Linked DNA regions of Homo sapiens. The protein of the gene in region 2 purifies or fractionates together with the protein of the main gene of each other region. This does not show direct contact. Each region holds a gene or a part of one and is shown on either strand. Other genes may lie near its edges.

Region 1 (5,215 bases), on a different chromosome or scaffold from region 2:
TTGCTCCAAATTCCAGGTTTCCTGGAACCGAAACAAAATGTATTTTCCATATAAATTTCAAACAAACTTATATGAAAAAATTAAAGTTTAAAAATTGTCAAAACTTTTAGAAATGAAAAAACCTGAGAAAGTGACTGTCGGACATTAAAATGTAGCTCAGAAGGTCCAGTAATTAAAACAGCACGGTTTAGGACACAGATCCACAAGGCAGAAATAAACGTGTAGAAACAGATCTGAGTCTAGTGCTTATGGCAAGCACTAGAAAAGGGGGCCTTTGAATTAGATGGAAAGGTGTATTGTTTCATAAACGAGGTGGTAACCATTACTTAAGTCTTCGAGATAAAGTAACCTTAGCTCTCTCCCTGTATGCAAAAATAAGTTGAAGATGGCTTGAAAATCAAAATATAAGGAAAGTCAAAACAGAAAAATTATAAAAATATCAGCAAAGAGTTCTGTATGATTTTGGTATAACCCTGGAGTAAGAAAGACTTTTTAAAGCAAGACAGGTACATTTGACAACTGACTTCACAAAAATTTATGAACTTCACGTTGCAAAAGACACGATAAACACAAAATTTTAAAAGACAGACTGAAAGAAATACGTTGGAAACACACAGATCAGAGAATTACTATCCCTAACGTGCAGAGAGCACTTAGTATCGACAATACAAACAACTCCATTTAAAAGTGCGCAAACCTTTGAAAAGCTAATTCATACAAGAGGAACTGTGAAACGGTAAAAAAGAGAATGACAATATGTTCAGTCTCATTAGTAATAAGGAAAATGCACATTGAAACAATTAAAAGTGTTATTTGGATAAAACTAAAAATACCTTGCTAATATCTGGTGCTGAAAAGGGTGAGGAAATTGAAGGAAATTTGCATTGTTTAAACCTTTTGGTAAAGTAAGTAAAAAGAAACTATGAGGATTTAAAATGCAAATGCCCTTTGACTTTTAAGTGTTCCACAGAAACAAAACAATATTGTCAGTATCTGACAACCTTGGCACAAAGGTGCTTCTTGCAATTTTGTTTGCAAAACCTAAACTTGGTCATAAACTTAATATCCCATAGTGAACAATGGTTGACTAAGCCACGGTATATGCACATCATGAGAGGGTGAATTTCCTGACAAGAATAAAACACATCTATATGAAACGTCATGAGTGTAATCTATGCCATATTGTTGAAGAAATTAAAATTCAGGAAGGGAGGTGCAGAATATTTTTAACCTATACTATCATCTTCAAACTGATACAATTAGCATGTAACAAGGTTATAAGTTCTGAGTATAAGTTAGGTATTAAATTCTCCCCCATCTAAATGTTGCTCCATGGCCAGACACAGTGACTCATGTCTGTAGTCCCAACACTTTAGGAGGCTGAGGCAGGCAAATCGCTTGAGCTCAGGAGTTCGAGACCAGTGTGGGCAACATGGTGACACCCCATCTCTACAAAAGTTGGCTCAGTGTGGTGGCATGAGCCTGTGGTCCCAGCTACTTGGGAGGCTGAGGTGGGTGGATTGCAAGAATCCAAGTGGCAAAGGTTGTAGTGACCTGAGATTGTGCCACTGCACTGCAGCCTGGGTGACAGAGTAAGACCCTGTCTCAAAAAAATAAAAAAATAAAAAAATAAATGTTCCTCCATGATCCAGGGCAGCTGGGTTGGGAGGATGAGGCCAGCTGGGTGCACTCATCTGTGAGGGGGAGACCGGGAGGCATGCGGTGACCTCAGCAGTCTGGGGTCCCAGGTGCCTCTAGAGGAACCCCAAGCAGCTCCGAGCCATGAGGTGTGGGTGCTCCTTCTTCCCAGCACGAGCAGCCTCCCTCACACACCCTCCCTGAATAATGTCGGCCGTGTCACTGGGCTTATGTCCACTGGGCCCTACCTGGTTTGGCCATCTGGCCCCCCTGAGCAGCATGACCTACTGGAATGGTGGCAGAGACCCCAGAGGTCCTGGGCCAGGACGGCTGCAGCTGCTGTGTGCCCAGAGAGCACGGGGCTGTTCTGTGCAGGCTGGGGTGGGGGCTTCCCCTGTGGGGCCGGCTGGGACTCCCTGCAGTGATGGGAGGAATATGGCAGGCAGGCTGGGGACTGAGATGTGAGGTGAAGGCAGGAAGGAGGCTGTGTCAGTGTGAGAGAGTGTGACTGTGTGCGAGTGTGTGTGTGTGCACGTGCCTGTGTCTGTGCACCTGGGGTGGTTTGAGCCAATGACTCTTACCTTTCCACTTCATTTTCTTTTAGGTTGTATTAAATGGTTCTAGATGAAACTTTAGTAGAGTGTAGGAGCGCAATATCTAAACCCTAAAACTCTGGGAAATGTTGTATAAAGCTGCTTTTTAAAATATAAAGTTAATATATGTTCATTTTATGGAAAGAAAAATGAAACAGCAAACAAGGAGTAAATAATTTACTCAGCATCATGTGTGAGTAGATTTCCTATTACTCTATGTTCTGTGAGAAGTGTATCCTGTACTTGAGATTCTCTGGGAAGAATATGCATTTGTCATGGCTGTACAATTTTATTTCATCATGGGAACAGGGTACCCTTTAGAATGTGTGCTTAAAACTGGATCATGGTCCTCTTTATAAGGGTCTTCTTTCAGCTTTGTAGTTTGGAGGGTGAAAAAGTGGTGTGCAGTTGGGCTGGAATTGTGCAGTGTTGGGGCAGAGCTGTCATCAGTGGATGTATTTAGAGTTGAAATGACAAGATCTGACTCTCAATGAAACACTATTAGAAACATTAAAAAACATTCAGGCTGACAACATTACACGTGTTTAAAGAAAGAAAATAACTACGCTTGGCCTTATTTTTGTGCGTAAGTTCAAATGTTAGTTATAAAGAATTCTATAATTTTTTCAAGTAAGATGAGTGCAATAAGCCACATGAATGGCTATAAATGTTCAGAGAAACATTTCTACTTTCCCTTATGTCATCAGATTATTTGAACATGTTAAATAGAGAACATATTTTCCTATGTAATTTGAGTTCAGGCAAGTGTAGAGACAGACAAAACGTTCCCGTTAAACTTACGAACTTACCCAAGTGTAGATATACTCGGGGCATCATCTGCTTCCTGTGGGGGGAAGGGATGCAAAATTCATAGGATGAACAAAGACCTTGTTGACATTAAACTTATTCTTAAAATTCAAGTTCATTACTAGTCAGTTCTGAGTAATGGTACTTCAAGAATGCCTGGATCATGGAATAGGATCTCAGTGGTGACACAGCACCCTTCCTCCCAATCCTTGTATTATGGGCTGAACTATATCCTCCTCCAAATTCATAGGTTGACATCCTGACTCCCAGTACCTCAGAATGTGACTATATGTGGAGACAGGGTCTTGAAAGAGGTAATGGATGTTAGATGAGGCTACTAGAGTGAGCCCTAATCCAGAGTGACTGGTGTCCTTTTATGAAGGGGAGATTATGACAGAGACACAAACTGAGGGAAGACTGGGAGGACACAGAGAACAGGTGGCCATCTACAAGGCAAGGAGAGAGGCCTTGGGAGACACCAACCCTGCAGACACCGTGCTCTGGGACTTCCAGCCTGCAGATATGTGAGAAAATACATTTCTTGTTCCAACACCCCATGTGTGGTTCCTGCTTGTGGAAGCTCTAGCAAAGAAAAACACCTGCTATGTGTGCACACACGTTGTTCTCAGTGCTCTTGGTTAAGAACCTGGGAGTGGGAGTGCTGGCTCATATGATAAGTACATGCTCAGCATCTGAAGCTTTGCCAAACTGCTCGCCAATGTGGCATCATCTTTCATCCCCATGAGCAATACATGAGACTTCCAGTTCTCCGATGTCTTCACCAACACTTGGTATTGTTCATCTTCTTTTTAATTATATTTTTTAGAGACAGAGTCTTGCTTTCATTGCTCTTGGGTAAGAATCTGGGGGTGAGAGTGTTGGGTCATATCATAAGTACCTACTCAGCATCAGAAGCTTTGCCAAACTGCTTGGCGATGTGGCATCATCTTTCATCCCCATCAGCAATGGATGAGACTTCCAATTCTCCCACATATTCACCAACACTTGGTATTGTTCATCTTTTTAAAAATTAATTTTTTTAAAGATAGGTTGCCCAGGCTGGTCTCAAACTCCTAGCCTCCAACCATCCTTCTGCCTCCTTGGACTCCCAAAGTGCTGGGATTTCAGGCATGAGCCACTGTGCCTGGCTTATCTTGTTGATCATTTTTATTGTAGCCTTTCTAACATGGGTGCCATGCTATCTTATTGTGGTTTTAGCTCGTGGATCCCAGGTGGGAAATGATGTTGAGCAGCTTTTCATGTGCTTTGTCGTTCATATTATTGCCTTGTGGAAGTTTTGTGTTCAAATCTTTTGCCCATTTGAAAACAGAGTTTTCTTATTGCTGAGTTTTGAAAATTCTTTAAATATTCTGGATACAAGTATATGACTTGAAAATATTTTATTTCAGTCTGTGGCTTATATTTTCATTCTCTTAATGGTGTCAATTGAAGGGAAATTTTTAAATGCTTAAAGTCACATTTATTCTTCTTTTTTCGGAAATAATGTTTTTGGGATCTATCAAAGAAGACATTGCTTAACAGAAGATCACAAAGATATTCTCTGGAGGGAGACTCAGAGGCGGACAGATGGCGGCAGCAGCTGCACGGGCGGGAGGGGGGCGGTAGCGCAGGCGGTGGTGGGGTTGGCGGGGGTTCCAGCTGCGGGACAGGCAGTGGCCGTAGCGGCATGTGGATAAGTCGAAGATAAGTGATATGCCTGGAAAAACGGACAAGTGGGATGGATCAGCTGTGAAAAACTCTGGATGATTCTGCCAAAAAGATACTTCTGGAAAAATACAAATACGTGGAGAATTTTTGTCTAATTGACGGTCACCTCACCATCTGTACAATCTCCTGTTGCTTTGCCATAGTGGCTGTGATTTGGGATTATATGCATCCCTTTCCAGAGTCCAAGCCCGTTTTGGCTTTGTGATGATGGGAATTCTGACTATTTAGACCTCATCTAAGGAGAAGACCATCTTTCTCGTGGCCCACAGAAAAGAGCCTACAGGAGTGGATTCTGATGCTATTTGGGAGCTGCCCTCCAGTCTTAAAAGGTTTGATGGCAGATACACCCTGAAGCTGACCTTCATCAGCAGGAGAACAAAGCAGCAGCGGGAAGCCAAGTTCACCAAGTCTATGGCTGAATTTTTCTGACCCCAGTGGGAGACTGGTCA
Region 2 (6,093 bases):
GTGTCCCTGAGCATTACAGAGAGTGCCCTATTAAATGTGACCATTAAGTCAATGGCTCATGAGGTTCAGCAATTCATCAGCTGTGATGCTCTGTTACTGGGGTCAGGAAAGATTGAGAAACTTGTCCCTTTGGGACAGTAGAGCACAGATTAACACCACTTTTTAAGTGTTATATACTACAATGTAATAATAATAGAAATAAAGTGCACAATAAATGTAATGTGGTTGAATCATCCCGAAATCACCCCCTTCACCCTTCACCCCGTTCATGGAAAAACTGTCTTCCACGAAAGCAGTCCCTGGTGCCAAAAAGGTCGGGGACTACTTCTCTGGATGTCTTGATGAAATACATACATTTCAGACGCGGATAAACCCCACAAAAATTCAGGAGCTTGCTACATTGGTGATATTTTAAAATAATTATTTAAAAAACTGGGGGGGTAGTTTTAGACTTAGGAGAGATGTAAAGAGAGTACAGGGATTTTTCCATATATTCTTTACCTAGCTTCCCCTTATGTCAACATCTTGTGTAAGCATAGAACATGTATCAAAACAAAGAATGATCCTGGTACAATAGCATTATGTAAACTATACATCATTTTGGATGCTGAAGTGGTCCAATGATCTTGGGCACGTCAAGACATTTTCCCCAGAATGAAAAACATGTTACTACACCTTGCACCTCTGCCAAAAAGAAAGAAGCATGACACTTAGCAGATCTCTGAGTTTAGAAATCAGCATATTTTGCCCTTGGGAATTCTGTTCCTATCCCTTTAGCAGTTGACGTGGAAGGTGGCTACTGATCAGTAGCTCAGATCAAGAACGGGCTCAGGGCCAGGCGCGGTGGCTCAAGCCTCTAATCCCAGCACTTTGAGAGGCCAAGGTGGGTGGATAGCTTGAGCTCAGGAGTTCGAGACCAGCCTGGCAACATGTTGAAATCCTGTCTCTACAAAAAACACAAAATTAGCTGGGCATGGTGGCAGATGCCTGTAGTTCCAGTTAGTCTGGAGGCTGAGGTGGGAGGATTGCTTGAGTCCAGGAGGCAGGGGTTGTAGTGGGCCACAATCATGCCACTGCACTCCAGCCTAGGTGACAGAGCGAGACCCTGTCTCAAAAAAAAAAAAAAAAAAAAAAAAAGCAAAGAAAAGAAAAAAGAAAGAGCCCAGCACTGTCCTCTGTGGTTAGGGCGGTAAGGGCAACCTTGCCTCTTGGGCTGTATCACCGGACACACCTCACAATGCTAGAGCTCTCTGCAATGGAGCTGCAAAGGCTATGAGGAACCTCCGGCAAGCCCCCAAAGAACCACAGTAGAGCCCTTGAAGGTTCTGGAGCATAGCCAGGCCAACTCTTAACAACAACAAAAAAGAATTGGGAGATCTTTTATTCCAGTAATCTTATTTTAAAGGTAAAAAGGAGGCCTAAAGTCATAGGCATAATTGGCAGAATTGACTTTTGTTCTGGTGTTTCTCTCTGTAGTCATTCTTCACTTTCTGATGCAATTTTAGCACATCTTAAATATTAAAATGTTTTGGAACAAACTTAGAGAAATTATGAAGCTAATTTAGGAAAAGAGCACAAGAATCTTTGATTTACAGGCAATTTGGGGATATAATTTAGCTATATTGAAGCTATGCAGCCAACATGTAGATGGTCATTATTATTACACCATAAATTTTGTGAGGTCAGGAACCTTGTAATTTTAAAAATATTCACTCTGTGCTTTGTTGAATAAACGGATAAAACGTATAGACATACATGAACTACTGATGAGTGGCTGTGTGTGATGTGTAGCTATGTTTATTATTTTTAAGATTCTTATTGTATTTGTTGAAGGCCAAGTTGAGGAGGGAATTGCTTAAGGGAAATGAAAAGGGGTTTAACCACAGTCCCCACCATTCAGGGGCATGCAATCTAGTAGGTTAGGGGACAGGACAGACACACCATGATAGGTGATCGAGACCTTTTAAGAGCAGTGTGATGAAATTGCTATGGGAACTGGGAGGAAACATTTTCTAGGACTGGGGAAACACTGAGTGTGCTAGAAAAACTTTGTGCTCCTGATCAGGGAACCTGGGTTCTATAACTGCTTCTACTACTGATTTGTCCTGTGACTTCGCGCACCAAATTTAGGCTTGTAAATTAAACTCCCAGATTTCTGTTTTCCATTTTGCAGCTCTAGGGGTTGAATGAACCATTAGGTTCCCTCGGACAAATGACCTCCGCTAATTTCCTATTTCGTTGTTTTCTCACCCCTACACCCCACCGTTCCGTGGGTCCCTCCTCTCCAGGAGGCCAGACGAGGAAATAAGCGAGGCCTCTTTAAAGGAGCTCTCAAAGAAAGGTACCCGGGGTATCCCGGGCTGTGGAGCAAGCGCGGGGCGCCGGGGACCCGGGTTTCCCACGCAGCCGGGGACGCCGTTGCGTCACGGCGCCTGCAGCCAATCAGGACGTAGCCTTCCGGGACGCATTACTAGGGCGACGGCCGGACGCCTCCGCGTTACGGGATGAATTAACGGCGGGTTCCGCACGGAGGTTGTGACCCCTACGGAGCCCCAGCTTGCCCACGCACCCCACTCGGCGTCGCGCGGCGTGCCCTGCTTGTCACAGGTGGGAGGCTGGAACTATCAGGTGGGGTTACGGCGCGAGGAAAATGGCGGCGGCCGGGGGATCTCAGAGGTGCAGGAAGGGGAGCTGCAGCCCGGGCTTTTCCTCCTGAGCCATGGACCTTCCCCGGGCCGCGACCTCGGGTAACGGCCACTGGCCTGGCATTTGGGGTCCCGGTGCAGGTGGCGGTAGCGTCGCTGGCTCAGGTGGAAGGAGGCGCGGGGAAGCGACTCCTGGAGGCTGGCTGAGGCGTCAGGTGCTGAGGGGCCGCGCGAGCGGCGAGGGCGAGGTAGCCGCGGGGCGAAGAGGGTCCCGTCGGTGTTTACGCTAGGAGCGTCAAAACCTTCCTCCTGCGACCTCAGCGGGTCTGGGAGCTGCACTGTCCCGGAACGCAACCTGAGGTCTGACCCTGTTAAATCCCATGCACTAAAACGTCTCAAGTGGTCACCACGTGCGGGGCTTCGACGAGAGCCGTGGAGAGCAGGGGCTGGGGTTGTCTTCCCTGCGAGTCCTGCAGGCGCCAAAGGCCTGCCTGTAGGTGCCAGAGTGGCAGTGCCGCGAAAAGAAAGGTAGGCCCTAGCCAGGGCGGATGCCAAACCTGATCTTTAAGGTGTATCGTAGCTTCTAATTGCCCATTTGAAGAAAAGAAGTTGAAAGATAAGGCACTTAGATGTGGTTGTGGAGATGTTTTGCTTTCTTGTACTTCCCTGGTTCAGGTGGCTTCCCTGGAAATACTGCATCTGCCTTTAAAGTTCATTAACTGTGTTTCTTGTGTACATGGCAGTAGATGAGATTAGGGATTGAAGTCACTTTAAGTCCAAGAAAAGTATTGAAGATATGTGTTGAAGGCATTACCAAGATGAAATATTTATTCATATCATTAACTTATTTGTTCAAAGAAACGTCATCTCATGAAGTATAACTACGTGGGTTAGTTTTCAAAAAACTGACTTGATGAAAGCCCTTTTTGTAAAACATATTTTTTGAGAGTAAGTAAAAATACATCATCACTTTTTCGTTTAGGTTTCTGTTGCACATTGTACTTTGATATGCTTGATATGACAGATAAGCATAATGTTAACTGACTTTTGTTTTTGGTAGTAGGCTTGATTTTATGGAGTAGTACCTTGTTCTGTAACTGAGAAAAACGTAATAGCGCTTGTGTTTCAGTCATCAATAGCTGCAATCTCTGGAGTGCCAACTATGTGTCAGTTTCTGTGAAAGCTAGGCTTCTCCTACTTTTTAATTTGAACACATGGTCGTCTGCATCTGCCCCCACCAGGTCTTTAGGCTGGCTGTTGCTGACAACCAGGAGGAAGCAATGGGGAAAACCCAAAAGATTCTTCCAAACTGGATCCATGGAGATTTGGTCAGTTTGTCCTGGGGTTGAGGTTATGGGTGGATTCTAGTCCAAACTCTGCCACTTAAAAATATCTTAGGGTAATCATACAACTTCACTATTGGTGTCTTATCTCTAAAGTGAGTATTTCTTATTCAAACAATCTCATTGCACTGTTGGGAGGAAAAAGAAAAGACAGTATGTGTGAAAGGGCTTTAAAAAGTTAAAAAAACAGTGAAAATATTTGAAATTTATTCCTCTGCATTCATGTACTCTGCCAGGCACTGAATCCGGGGACTTATATGTGCCAACTCAGTCATCTAGCATCACTGTGAGGCGGATACATTTATTATCTTTATTTTGCAGATGAGGAAACTGAAGCACATTGAAGTTTAAGTAATTTGTCCATATCACACAATTAGCATTGTGTTTCCAGCCTGTGTTCTTACTGTCTTACTACCACCATGCCTACTATCTTCCTATGACATACAGATGTGTTATGTATTAAGGGGAAACATTAATTCATGTACAAATTTTTCATTTTTAATATATATATTTTTCTTTTTCAAAGGCTCTAGCAATGTCCTAGAATGAACACATATTTCAAGCCAGTAGTTTTGTTTGTGATCTTGTGTAAATAATAATCATGGTTTATTCCATTGGCGTCCAATAGTGATTTGTGTGGTAACAATTACATTTACTTTGGTTAAGTGGTATATTCTTCTTACTTGTGTTGCCCATTAATTAAAAAGTTATTTTGAAACAGAGTTATGACTAATTTCTTTTTTTTTTTTTTTTGAGAGGGAGGTTCGCTCTTGTTGCCAGGGCTGGAGTGCAATGGCACGATCTCGGCTCACCACAGCCTCTGCCTCCCGGGTTCAAGCGATTCTCCTGCCTCAGCCTCCTGAGTAGCTGGGATTACAGACATGTGCCACTACGCCTGGCTAATTTTGTATTGTTAGTAGAGACGGGGTTTCTCTGTGTTGGTCAGGCTAGTCTTGAGCTCCCGACCTCAGGTGATCCGCCTGCCTCAGCCTCCCAAAGTGTTGGGATTACAGGTGTGAGCCACTGTGCCTGGCTAGTTATGACTAATTTCTATCAGGAAGCACAAATCAATAATTGGGATTTTTGTTTTTATTACATTTTTTAAAAGAATAATTTGCTGGGGGACTTTTAAAAGAAAACTGATTTTAGTTAAGCTTGTTGTTTTGATATACTTGTGCTAATTTTTCCAGTCTTTATTTATTAATAAAATAGGATGAGTAAAAGTGGCTAGGACATTTATTGTTTCATTGAACCTTTATGGAATAGCCCTGCCAAGTCTTTAGGATGTAAACATTAACTCCTGACCCTACCCTTGAGGAGTTCAGGGAGAAGTCCCAGGTCCAGAAGTTTGTAGACAGTTGAGACAAATAAATAAATGATTAACTAATAAAGCATGATAAGGACTCAAATATAATTGTGGGTACAGAGACCTGTGAGAGCACATAAAAGGGAACAGTTACTTCTTCTGGGATGGGCCTGGCCAGAAGAGGAAGGGAGCTAACTGGAGGATAAAGGCGTAGGGAGAAACAGAGCAAAGCTAGGACAAGTGAGAGCTCATGGTGTCCAGGGGTCAGACCACAGTATTACAGGTGTTGCTGGGAGAGAAGCCAGGAAAGGTTAGAGCCAGGTTGTGAACTCTTAGCTAAGAGAGTGGGAACTCTCCTGCGGGCAGTGGGAACTGTAGAAGGATCTCGATTAGATGCATAGCTTCCACTTTATGCTACAAAAATGCTAGGATAATGGGTGTTAGAATTTTTTTCTTTTTACTTTAGGTTTTGAATATATTTGTACAGAAATCATTGTAATATGGAAGTAATCACTGATGGTTTCTCTAGTTTTAAAGCTGATCTCCACTTAAACGTGTGTAACACTAAAGTTGTCCAGCACCTAACAACATAACATGAATGCAGTGCAAATCGACTACAAGGTAGGGTGTGCAAATCTTGCAAAAGATGCAGGATTTCATGAAGTCAAAGCAAGGGGGAGAACTGCTGAAACCATAAGCGCAAATAAAGGACTAGTGCCTGGAATAGGCAGAGATTCTTAAAAAGGACTCAGAAAGCAATGATCATGAAAATGATTGATAAATTTGTCTTCAGACTTCT

What was found. Proteins that work in one complex are often made in the same cells at the same time.
Region 1: the proteins of LCLAT1 (region 2) and ZDHHC11 purify together in Homo sapiens (co-immunoprecipitation; one large-scale study listed by IntAct). This does not show direct contact.

The regions. Positions count from the first base shown.
Region 1 is NC_000005.10:811,721-816,935, forward strand, and holds part of ZDHHC11 (palmitoyltransferase ZDHHC11), read right to left. Parts: exon of another isoform or gene 4,607-5,215; intron 3,076-4,606; coding exon 3,041-3,075; intron 1-3,040. UniProt on the Homo sapiens protein: Endoplasmic reticulum-localized palmitoyltransferase that could catalyze the addition of palmitate onto various protein substrates and be involved in a variety of cellular processes.
Region 2 is NC_000002.12:30,444,777-30,450,869, forward strand, and holds the start of LCLAT1 (lysocardiolipin acyltransferase 1), read left to right. Parts: upstream 1-2,469; 5' UTR 2,470-2,607; exon of another isoform or gene 2,608-2,747; intron 2,748-6,093. UniProt on the Homo sapiens protein: Exhibits acyl-CoA:lysocardiolipin acyltransferase (ALCAT) activity; catalyzes the reacylation of lyso-cardiolipin to cardiolipin (CL), a key step in CL remodeling.